2 linked regions of the Homo sapiens genome follow. The protein of the gene in region 1 purifies or fractionates together with the protein of each later gene. This does not show direct contact. Each region holds a gene or a part of one and is shown on either strand. Other genes may lie near its edges.

Region 1 (5,096 bases):
TACACATCATACTTCACAGACTCTTAAGTTGCCGTCAACTGTAAGTTGTGCTTTCACGTCCCACCAAGAGAGGAAGAAATGCTTAAGATGGATCATCTAATAGACCCCCCATATGCAACTGGGATACCAAAAACCTGCACCTTCAGTGAAAATATAAAGACAAAAATCCCCCACACAGAAAAGGACAGCAAGGAAGCTTGATTGTCTCAAACTTGACACTGTGTCATAGGAGGAAAAAATATCTCCCCTGAGAATAGGAACCACCAGTTGGTATTAGCCAGTGTCTTGTCTAAATTCACTCTGCCAGGAGGATTAAACAAAACCCTAAACAGAGAACTTAATTTCAAGAAGTCTCAGATTGGTAGCATTCCTAAGTACTGGCAGAAGCAAATGCAAATCTCTCGTGGAAAGAGTTGATGTCAATCCAGGCCCACGGCACTTTTAAGATATCATCAATTTTTAAGACATCCTATCTTTCAGTTGTGTTAAAATCTAAAAGCCAGTGTGCATCTTGCAATCAACAAAATATGCTCCATATCATGTCAGGCAGTAATAGGTGCAGTGAAGAAAAATGAAGCTGGGTAAGGGCAGAAACAGTGACAAGGCCAGGAAGGGGCACACATTTTATATACAGACCTCTGAGAAACCTCTCAGCAGAAAACCTGCAGGAAGGAAGTCTTCAGTTAACTAAAGAAGAGTTAATGTCCTAGAAGAGTATTCTAGGCAGAGATTACAGCAAATGCAAAAGCTCTCAAGTGGGAGAGTACTTGGGGTGTTTGAGGACTATCAAGGATTGAAGAGGCTGTTGTGGCTGGAGGGACCAGGGCAGAGTGAGGATTCTGAGAGGTGAGGTCAGAGTGCAAAGGGCCTTAGGGCTGGGCGAGGTGGCTCACGCCTGTAATCCCAGCACTTTGGGAGGCAGAGGCGGGTGGATCATCTGAGGTCAGAAGTTTGAGACCACCCTGGCCAACATGGTGAAACCCCGTCTCTATTAAAAATACAAAAAATTAGCCAGGCATGGTGGTGCACACCTGTAGTCCCAGCTACTCAGGAGGCTGAGGCAAGAGAATTGCTTGAACCAGGGAGGCAGAGTTGCAGTGAGCCGAGATCCGAGATCATGCCACTACACCCCAGCTTGGGCGACAGAGCAAGACTCTGTCTCCAAAAAAAAAAAAAAAAAAAAAGGGCCTTAGAGTTCCAGGTGGCAGGCTTGGTTCCCAGTGCTGTGCATACAGAGGCAGTGAGACCCAGTGCCTGCCACCAAGCTTACTTTCTAGTAGAGGAGGCAGATGATACACAGTGTCAAGAAACAGAAATGGACTATAATTTCTGGGTTGAAGAGCATTAAAATAGACCCACAGCCTAGGCCAGTTTACAGCTTACACTGAATTACCCAAGTGAACCTATAAAGATCAACAGAATCCCACAGCTCTGATTCTTGGAGTGACCTCCTCTTGTCTGTCCTGAGGTAGGTTGGAGTAATTTTGGATATTCCAAAAGATGGCTCTGTTTTATCTGAAGGAGTGATTCTTCTTGTTTATGTTAAAAAAGAAAAGAAACAAACTAATAAACTCTAAAATGAAGCCTCCGTTTCCCCCATGAGGTGTATACTACCATTTTCCAGTCATTTACTCAACCTCTTTGAGGAAATGATGCCCTCAAGCAGGGATTCTCAGACCTTTATACTCTTAAAAATTATTAAGGACCCAAAGAATTTTTGTTTGTGTGGGTTATATCTATCAATATTTACTATATTAGAAATTAAAACAGCCGGGCGCGGTGGCTCATGCCTGTAATCCCAGCACTTTGGGAGGCCAAGGTGGGTGGATCACGAGGTCAGGAGATCGAGACCATCCTGGCTAACATGGTGAAACCACGTCTCTACTAAAAATACAAAAAAATTAGCTGGGTGTGGTGGCCGGCGCCTGTAGTCCCAGCTACTCGGGAGGGTGAGGCAGGAGAACGGAGTGAACCCGGGAGGCGGAGCTTGAGTGAGCTGAGATCGCGCCACTGCACTCCAGCCTGGGCGACAGAGTGAGACTCCGTCTCAAAAAAAAAAAGAAATTAAAACTGAAAAATTAGAATATGGTTATTTGTTCATTTAAAAATAATAACTCATGACATGCTATATATAAAACATGTTTTTACTTAAAAACAACTAATTTTCAAAGCAAAGAATGTAGTACAAAGAGAGACATAAATCTCTTTAATGTTTGGCTTAATAAAAGGCAGTTGGATTCTCAGCTCTGCTTCTGAGTTCATTCTATTGCGGTATCACATGTCATATAGTCTCTGGAAAATTCCACTGCACACTCTTGAGAAAATGAGAATGAAAAAAGGGAAATAACATTTTAGTGTTATTATGAAACAGTTTGAACTTCATAGACTCCCCCGAAGGGCCCCTAGACCATACTTGGATAACTGCCATTCAAAAAAATCCATGTCACCTTTTATCAGCAACAGATTCCCAAAAGGCCTGGGTTATTTTGCTACAACCGTGGCACTAATTTTCTAGTTTTTGTGAGGCCAGGGGAAATGGAAGAGAGCATAAATCATTCCCTTGCATCTTTATAATCAACTATTCATGGCTGAGCACGGTGGCTCACGCCTGTAATCCTAGTACTTTGGGAGGCCGAGGCAGGCAGATCACCTGAGGTCGGGAGTTCAAGACCAGCCTGACCAACAACATGGAGAAACACTGTCTCTACTAAAAATACAAAATTAGCCGGGTGTCGTGGCACATGCCTGTGATCCCAGCTACTCGGGAGGCTGAGGCAGGAGAATTGCTTGAGGTTGTGGTGAGATGCATCACTGGTGCACTCTGCCAAAAAACAAACAACTATTCACATAGCTGTGTTTGAAGCCATTGGGATTGTTGATTAATGTGCTTTAAAAAGGAGAGAAAGTGATGACCCCTAGCACTGAACGGGGACAGGGTATGAAACGGATCTGCTGAAAGACTGCCTCAGGGATAACTGCAGAGAGGGTTGCCTTGATCATCATTTTGTACTTTGTTTTGGTGCCCAGTCTCCCTTAGGCAGACCTCCTCCTTTTGCTTCTAGCCAGTGGCTTTGTGTGTAGAACTGAACTGAGATTCTACCAATTCCTCGGTTAAAATTCTGTGGGCCCTGTGGGCCGCAGAGTGAGGAATAACATTGGAACTCACAGAAGCCGAGGGCAGGATGGTGGTTAATAGGTGTTGGGGCCAGGGGGTGGGATGGGGAGATGTTGGTCAAGTGGTATAAGGTGTTAGAAGGAGGAACAAGTTCTGGAGATCTTTGTACAACATGGTGACAATAGTTAATAACAATGTATACTTGAAAATTGCTAAGACAGTAGATTTTAAATGTTCTCACCACAAAAAGGAGTATGTGAGGGGATGGATATGTTAATTAGCTCAATTTAATCATTTTACAATGTGTACATATATCAAAACAGCACATTGTACACCATAAATATATACACTTTGTCAACTAAAATAAATAAATAAAAGAAACAACAATGACAAAAAAAAAAAAAAAAAAAAAAAACCAGACCAGCAGTCCATCTCAGATGATGGAGCTGTGTGTTTTCCATGGTTCTCCTAGCCTTTGACCTGGCCTTGTTAGTCTTTGTTTTCACACTGTCAACACTTTACTGTGGACCAATTCAGCCCTGGGCAGTGGTCGGCTAAGGTGACAGTAGAGCTAAATAAATGCCAGGGGCAGGTGGGGCAGGGGGTATCTCGAATGTTGTTTTATTTCAAAGTTTCTCCAGGATGATTGAGTCTTTTCAAAGAGTCCTTGAATTAACATGCTCTCTTCCTCTGAGAGGCCACAGATGGTATCTCCAGTGAGTAAGGATGCCACGGAAGATCTGCGGAAAGCAACTGGTCCTTTGGAGGCTCAGGCCTTGGTGAAACAGGATTTGCTGCCTGCAGACCAGGCCCAGGTCCTCAATGAGGTAGGGGGCAGATTCTGGCTCTTTCTTATGAAAGGAGGCACCAGAATGTGGACACATAGTGGTTGGGTTGGAATTAGAAAGCACTGCGAGGGTGGCTCCCGGAATTCTCTCTTTGCCCTCTAATTTAGGGCATCTTGGTCTTCATTATTTTTTGGAGAATGATTATTTGTATCTTCCACAGGGCCCATCATTGTACTGGCACCCAGTAGGCACCGATTCAGAAAACGAAGTGTTAGAGTGAATGTTCATGTGTTCTCTAAAATCCTCTTCATTGAGGAGCCTGAAGTCATTGGACTATTTTGCTCTTACTTTTCTTGTGGTAGATCTATTTAGTATTTATGATAAAGATTCCACAGAAGCTTTTTTTTTTTTTTTTTTTTGAGACAGGGTCTCCCTCTGTCGCCCAGGCTGGAGTGCAGTGGCACGATCTTGGCTCACTGCAACCTCCACCTCCTGGGTTCAAGTGATTGTCCCACCTCGCCTCCCGAGTAGCTGGGATTACAGGCACATGCCACCACACCCGGCTAATTTTTGTATTTTTAGTAGAGGCAGGGCTTCACCATATTGGTCAGGCTAATCTCGAACTCCTGACCTCAGGTGATCCACCCGCCTTGACCTCCCAAAGTGCTATGATTACAGATGTGAGCCACTGTGCCTGGCCTTGATTTTTTTTTTTTTTTTTTTTTTTTGAGACAAAGGTCTCACTCTGTCACCCGGCTTCAGTGCGATGGTGCAGTCATGGCTCACTGCAGCCTCAAAATCCTGGGCTCGAGTGATCCTCCTGCCTCAGCCTTCCAAGTAGCTGTATGGAAGTGATGGTGTAGTGGTGCCCCTGCCATGGAGGGATGGGGGCGGGATGGGGTTGTTTCTATCATTTATTAGCATATGTGTTAGAATAATGGTTGGTATTAGTGTCAATGAAGACACCACCAGGCGTTATAATTAGATTTGTATAATACTTTACAGTTTACAAGCATTTGTATCTGTAACACTTCATTTACTCCTGAGAACAACCTTGTCAGATAGGTGCCATTGTGTCTCCATTTAAGAAATGAGGAAACTGGCTGGGCCCGGTGGCTCATGCCTGTAATCCCAGCACTTTGGGAGGCCGAGGCAGGCAGATCACTTGAGGTCAGGGGTTCGAGACCAGCCTG
Region 2 (5,096 bases), on another chromosome or scaffold:
TGATGCCATCAAGCAATGGATACACATGCTTGTGGAACACAGTCCAAGGGACATTGTGGCTGCTGCCTGCCTTTTCTGTTCCCTTTTCTGAGCCTTTGTTGCTGACATATATGTATATATACATACACACACACACACACACACACACACACAACACACACATTTGGATTACAGCCAGGTGTTGGTCCAGGAGCTGTATAATACAACTCTAATAATTATACAGGCGATTTGTTGCAATGACTATATTCAGTGTAGTAAATTTTTGCAATTTTCTTAGGATGTAAAACTGATGTGATATTATGGTGTATATTAAGGAGGAACAGTTAATAGGCACTAACCTAACAAGTTAGCAATTTAGACCAATTCAAGACATGTATAGGAGGCTGAGGAGATTTTATTTTGCTGTAGGTAGCTGTAGGCTTTTGATCATGACAAAAAATTAAAACTATTAGGATGGGTCCTTGCTAGGAGAGATGGGAGGTGTTGAGACCAGTTAGAGGGCCCTTAAAGTGTTCTGGAAGCAAGGTAATGATGACCTTGAGAGTGGAAAGGAGAAGACAGTCAAATAATGTTTTGGAGATAAAATATATAGAACTGTGGAGGCCAGGTGCGGTGGCTTACACTGGTAATCCCAGCACTTTGGGAGGCCGAGGCGGGTGGATCACCAGAGGTCAGGAGTTCAAGACTAGCCTGGCCAACATTGTGAAACCCCGTCTCTACTAAAAATACAACAATTAGCTGGGTGTGGTGGCGGGCATCTGTAATCCCAGCTATTCAGGAGGCTGAGGCAGGAGAATTGCTTGAACCCGGGAGGCGGAGGTTGCAGTGGGCTGAGATGGCACCAGTGCATTCCAACCTGGGTGACAGAGCGAGCTCCATCTAAAAAATAAATTAATTAATTAAATTAAATAACAGAAATTTATTCTCTCACAGTTCTGGAGGCTAGAAGTCTGAAATCAGGATGTCAACAGGGTTTGTTCCTTCTTGGAGGCTCAGAGGGAGAAATCTGTTTTATGTTTCTCTGCTAGCTTCTGGTGGTTGCCAGCAATCCTTGTCATTCCTTGGCTTGTAGACGTATTACTCCAGTCTCTGCCTCTGTTGTCCTCACATGTCGTCTTCCCTCTGTGTGCGTCCTTATCGGATTAAAGGCCCACCCTGTCCAGTATGATCTCATCTGAACTTATTACATCTGCAGTGACTCTGTTTTCAAATAAGGTCACATTTAGAGGTTTTGGGAAGGATATGAATTTTGAGGGGGACACCATTCAACCCAGTGCAGAAGGCTAGAGTTAGAAATATAGGATTCATTTGCACAGTGTGGATCTGGAATGCTGAAGGGAATGTGAGCTCACTGAAGGAGCGAATTAATGACAAAAGAAGTATGAGCTGACACAGGGTAGATGAGACACAAAAAACATTTAATATAAAAATAGGTAGATATAGATAAGGAGGCCTTTAGAAATGTGGGCTGAAGTATAGTTATTGAGTGGAACAACAGCTGGACCTGAAAGGGTAGGAATGGTAGGAAAGCTTTAGATAGGTAGAGCTAGGAAGAAACCCCTAGAAGCAGGGAGATTAATAGCTTGAGCAAAGGTGATGACCTATTTGGAGGTTAATGGGGTTGGAGCCGAAGGTGGGGGTCAACCAGGTGTATGGACCATCTTGACTGTATTAAGCAAAACATCACTTTTATTACGGGAGGTTTCAGCTTATACAAATGTAGGAGGAATATAATGAACCCCTGAGTACTTGTCGTTATTTTAGTAGCTGCTCTTTTTTTTCTATAAATTCTCCTCCTCTTCTCTCCGTCCCTTATTTTGAAGCAAATTTCAGACATTTTAGATTGTGCATTTTTGACTAGCCTGTATAACTGAGGGGTTTCTGAGAAGGTTTCTGAGCAGGTAAGGGATGTGATCAAAAGAAATGCAAAGACATAAGATTTTATTAGGAAAGCAATGAAAAGTAGAAGAGGGAGAGGGTTTAGTACATAATTGATTGTTTTCATCTTTTGTTATTTGATTAAAGGTGTGCAGGATTTCTGTTCCAGAAAGTTGGAAAACTTGCAGCAACTGCAGTAGGTGGTGGCTTTCTTCTTCTTCAGGTATGTCAGAGCTTTAAGCACTTGCCTTTGCTTTCATAGAAGGTGGAATTTTTCTTTTAGGCATCAGTTTATGGAAGAGCTACAATGAGTTTTGGAAGCTGACTTTTGTCTTGAAAGATAACAATTTAAATACTTCTGAGTTATTAAGCATAGTTTGATCCCAGCTATTAAAAAGACAGCCATTACCGAGCGCATTGGCTCACGCCTGTAATCCCAGCACTTTGGGAGGCAGAGGCAGGCAGATCCCTTGAGGTCAGATGTTCAAGACCAGCCTGGCCAACATGGTGAAATCCCGTCTCTACTGAAAATACAAAAATTAGCTGCCATGGTGGTGCACGCCTGTAGTAGTCCCAGCTACTTGGGAGGCTGAGACAGGAGAATTGCTTGAACCCAGGAAGCGGAGGTTGCAGTGAGCCGAGATCGTGCCATTGCACTCCCGCCTGGGCAACAAGAGCAAAACTCTGTCTCCAAACAAAACAAAACAAAACAAAAATCCATAATCTTATATCTGAGGCAGATAGATTTGAAGTTTTAGTTTTGTTCATATTCTTGTAAGTATAAGATCTAAAAATGCTTTGCCATTAGAGGATGTTTATCAGGGCATCATCTGGCATTCATGTCTGTTTGGCATGTATTTTTTCAAAAATATCATTCCTTGAAGATCAAATATAGTAAATCCAAAAATTGAAAATCTCTACGAATGAATGTGAGCAGCACTTTTAAAGATACAGAGAACTGTCACTTGTACTAGATTTTAAAAATGATTGATGTTCATAGCCACCAGAATCTGAATTCAGCACCTAAGCCATCGATCATGTAATAACTAGTGTAGTTGTAGTACAAGGGGACTAGATTTGTATGTATGAAGCACAGATTTTGAGTTGTTCACTAAACAGCCTTTTAAAAATATATATGTTTTCTTTCTTTTGGTGACATTATTACGAATAATTGCTTATTACTTGTGGTAAGAGGTAAAAAAAATGATTAATACCTAAATTTAGTTCTTTGGATGAATATGCCAGCATTAGTACAGATGATAATTTTACTTAAGCTGATTTTGACTTGGTTTTATATGGAATCAAGAGCATATTTTATTCCATAGCTATTTTGAAGACTCAGTTGTCATTTCTGTTAGTGTAAAAGGGTACTGGACTGAAGCAGAGTTTCCTAAAATGTTCACAGAATGGAGAGAAGTGTATATTTTAATCCACTCTGCATGTCAGTTTTTCAGAAGTCCATTTCAGTTCACTCAATATGCACCATTCAAATCCACATTTTGTCATTGCCACCTCCCACTTTTCCGCATTTAGTACACGTAGTCTTTGAAGTTTTTAAGGCAGAGCAACATAGGACCTATCTGCATCAAACCAGTTTTTCCCACAAATACGACTAACCTTGAAAACTCAGTAGAAGGAAAGTGAAAGGGGAAATAAAGTAACAAATGGCTTTTAGGCTAATTGCCTAATATTCTTTAGGCCCACTTTCATATTTTTATGACCTTTCTTATATTTAAAGGTAAATATTAGTTTATTTAGAACTTAAAGCTTTTCTAGTAACAATATCAAGTGTTTTCCAATAGATATTTATTACACTGCCATCTTAAAGTACACAGTCTCTTCGTTTTAATTTTTTGGAGTTATACATCCTTATAATTCAAAGGGCCAAGTACTTGTGCAAGGCTTGTTACAGATTAGAGTAATCCTCCACCTCTCTCACTACCCCCATTTTTCCATCCCTTGAGACATCCAGTTTGCACTCTTAACTGATTCTTAAGGTAGTAATCTCTTTTTCCCTAAACAAGTTAATTGGACATTTCTTGATCTTTCAGTTTTAGGTGTGAACTATTGGCTTCCCATTATGGAATGGGAAAATTTAGCTGTCATTTATTGACCTGTTTTGTTTTCCCTATACTTCCCCAAATCTCACATACCTGAATGCTTTCTTCCCTCTCCCTCAATCGTCTGAGTGTAGTTACTTCCCTTTTTTCATAATTGTGTTAGATCATTCATTATATGGAGTTCACTGAGATTGATTACTTGGAGTTCACTGAACTTCTTGAGCCTGTGAATTTATGTCTTTAATCATGTTTGGGAAGGTTTTGGCCATTATTTCTACTAGGAAGTTTGGGATTTTTTTTTTTTTTTTTTCGAGACAGAGTCTCGCTCTGTCGCCCAGGCTAGAGTGCAGTGGCGCAATCTTGGCTCACTGCAACTTCCACCTCCCGGATTCAAGTGATTTTCCTGCCTCAGCCTCCCAAGTAGCTGGGATTATAGACTACAGCTGCCTGCCACAGCACCCCGCTAATTTTTGTATTTTTAGTAGAGATGGGGTTTCACCATCTTGGCCAGGCTGGTCTAGAACTCTTGACCTATTGATCCACCCGCCTCGGCCTCCCAAAGTGCTGGGATTACAGGATTACAGGCGTGAGCCACCACGGGCGGCCGGGATTATTTCTTTTCTTCTTCTTTTTTTTTTTTTTTAGACAAGAGTTTTGCTCATGTTGCCTAGGTTGGAGTGCAATGGCACAATCTCGGCTCACTGCAACCTCCGCCTCCTGGGTTCAAGCGATTCTCTTTCCTCAGCCTCCGAAGTAGCTGGGATTACAGGCACCTGCCACCATGCCTGGCTAATTTTTGTATTTTTAGTAGAGATGGGGTTTCACCATGTTGGCCAGGCTGGTCTCGAACTCCTGACCTCAGGCGATCCACCCGCCTTGGCCTCCCAAAGTGCTGGGATTACAGGCGTGAGCCACCGCGCCCAGCCAGGATTCTTTCTTTTTTTTTTTTTTTTTTTTTTTGAGACAGAGTCTTGCTCTGTCACCCAGGCTGGAGTGCAGTGGTGCGATCTCAGCTCACTGCAAGCTCCGCCTCCCAGGGTCACGCCACTCTCCTGCCTCGGCCTCTCAAGTAGCTGGGACAACAGGCGCCCGCCACCAAGCCCGGCTAACTTTTTTGTATTTTTTTGGTAGAGACAGGGTTTTGCTCTGTTAGCCAGG

What was found. The genes of interacting proteins can lie anywhere in the genome.
Region 2: the proteins of TMED8 (region 1) and FUNDC1 purify together in Homo sapiens (affinity purification with mass spectrometry; one large-scale study listed by BioGRID and IntAct). This does not show direct contact.

What each region holds. Positions count from the first base shown.
Region 1 is NC_000014.9:77,345,195-77,350,290, reverse strand, and holds part of TMED8 (protein TMED8), read left to right. Parts: intron 1-3,810; exon of another isoform or gene 3,811-3,812; coding exon 3,813-3,942; intron 3,943-5,096.
Region 2 is NC_000023.11:44,535,472-44,540,567, reverse strand, and holds part of FUNDC1 (FUN14 domain-containing protein 1), read left to right. Parts: intron 1-2,025; coding exon 2,026-2,101; intron 2,102-5,096. UniProt on the Homo sapiens protein: Integral mitochondrial outer-membrane protein that mediates the formation of mitochondria-associated endoplasmic reticulum membranes (MAMs).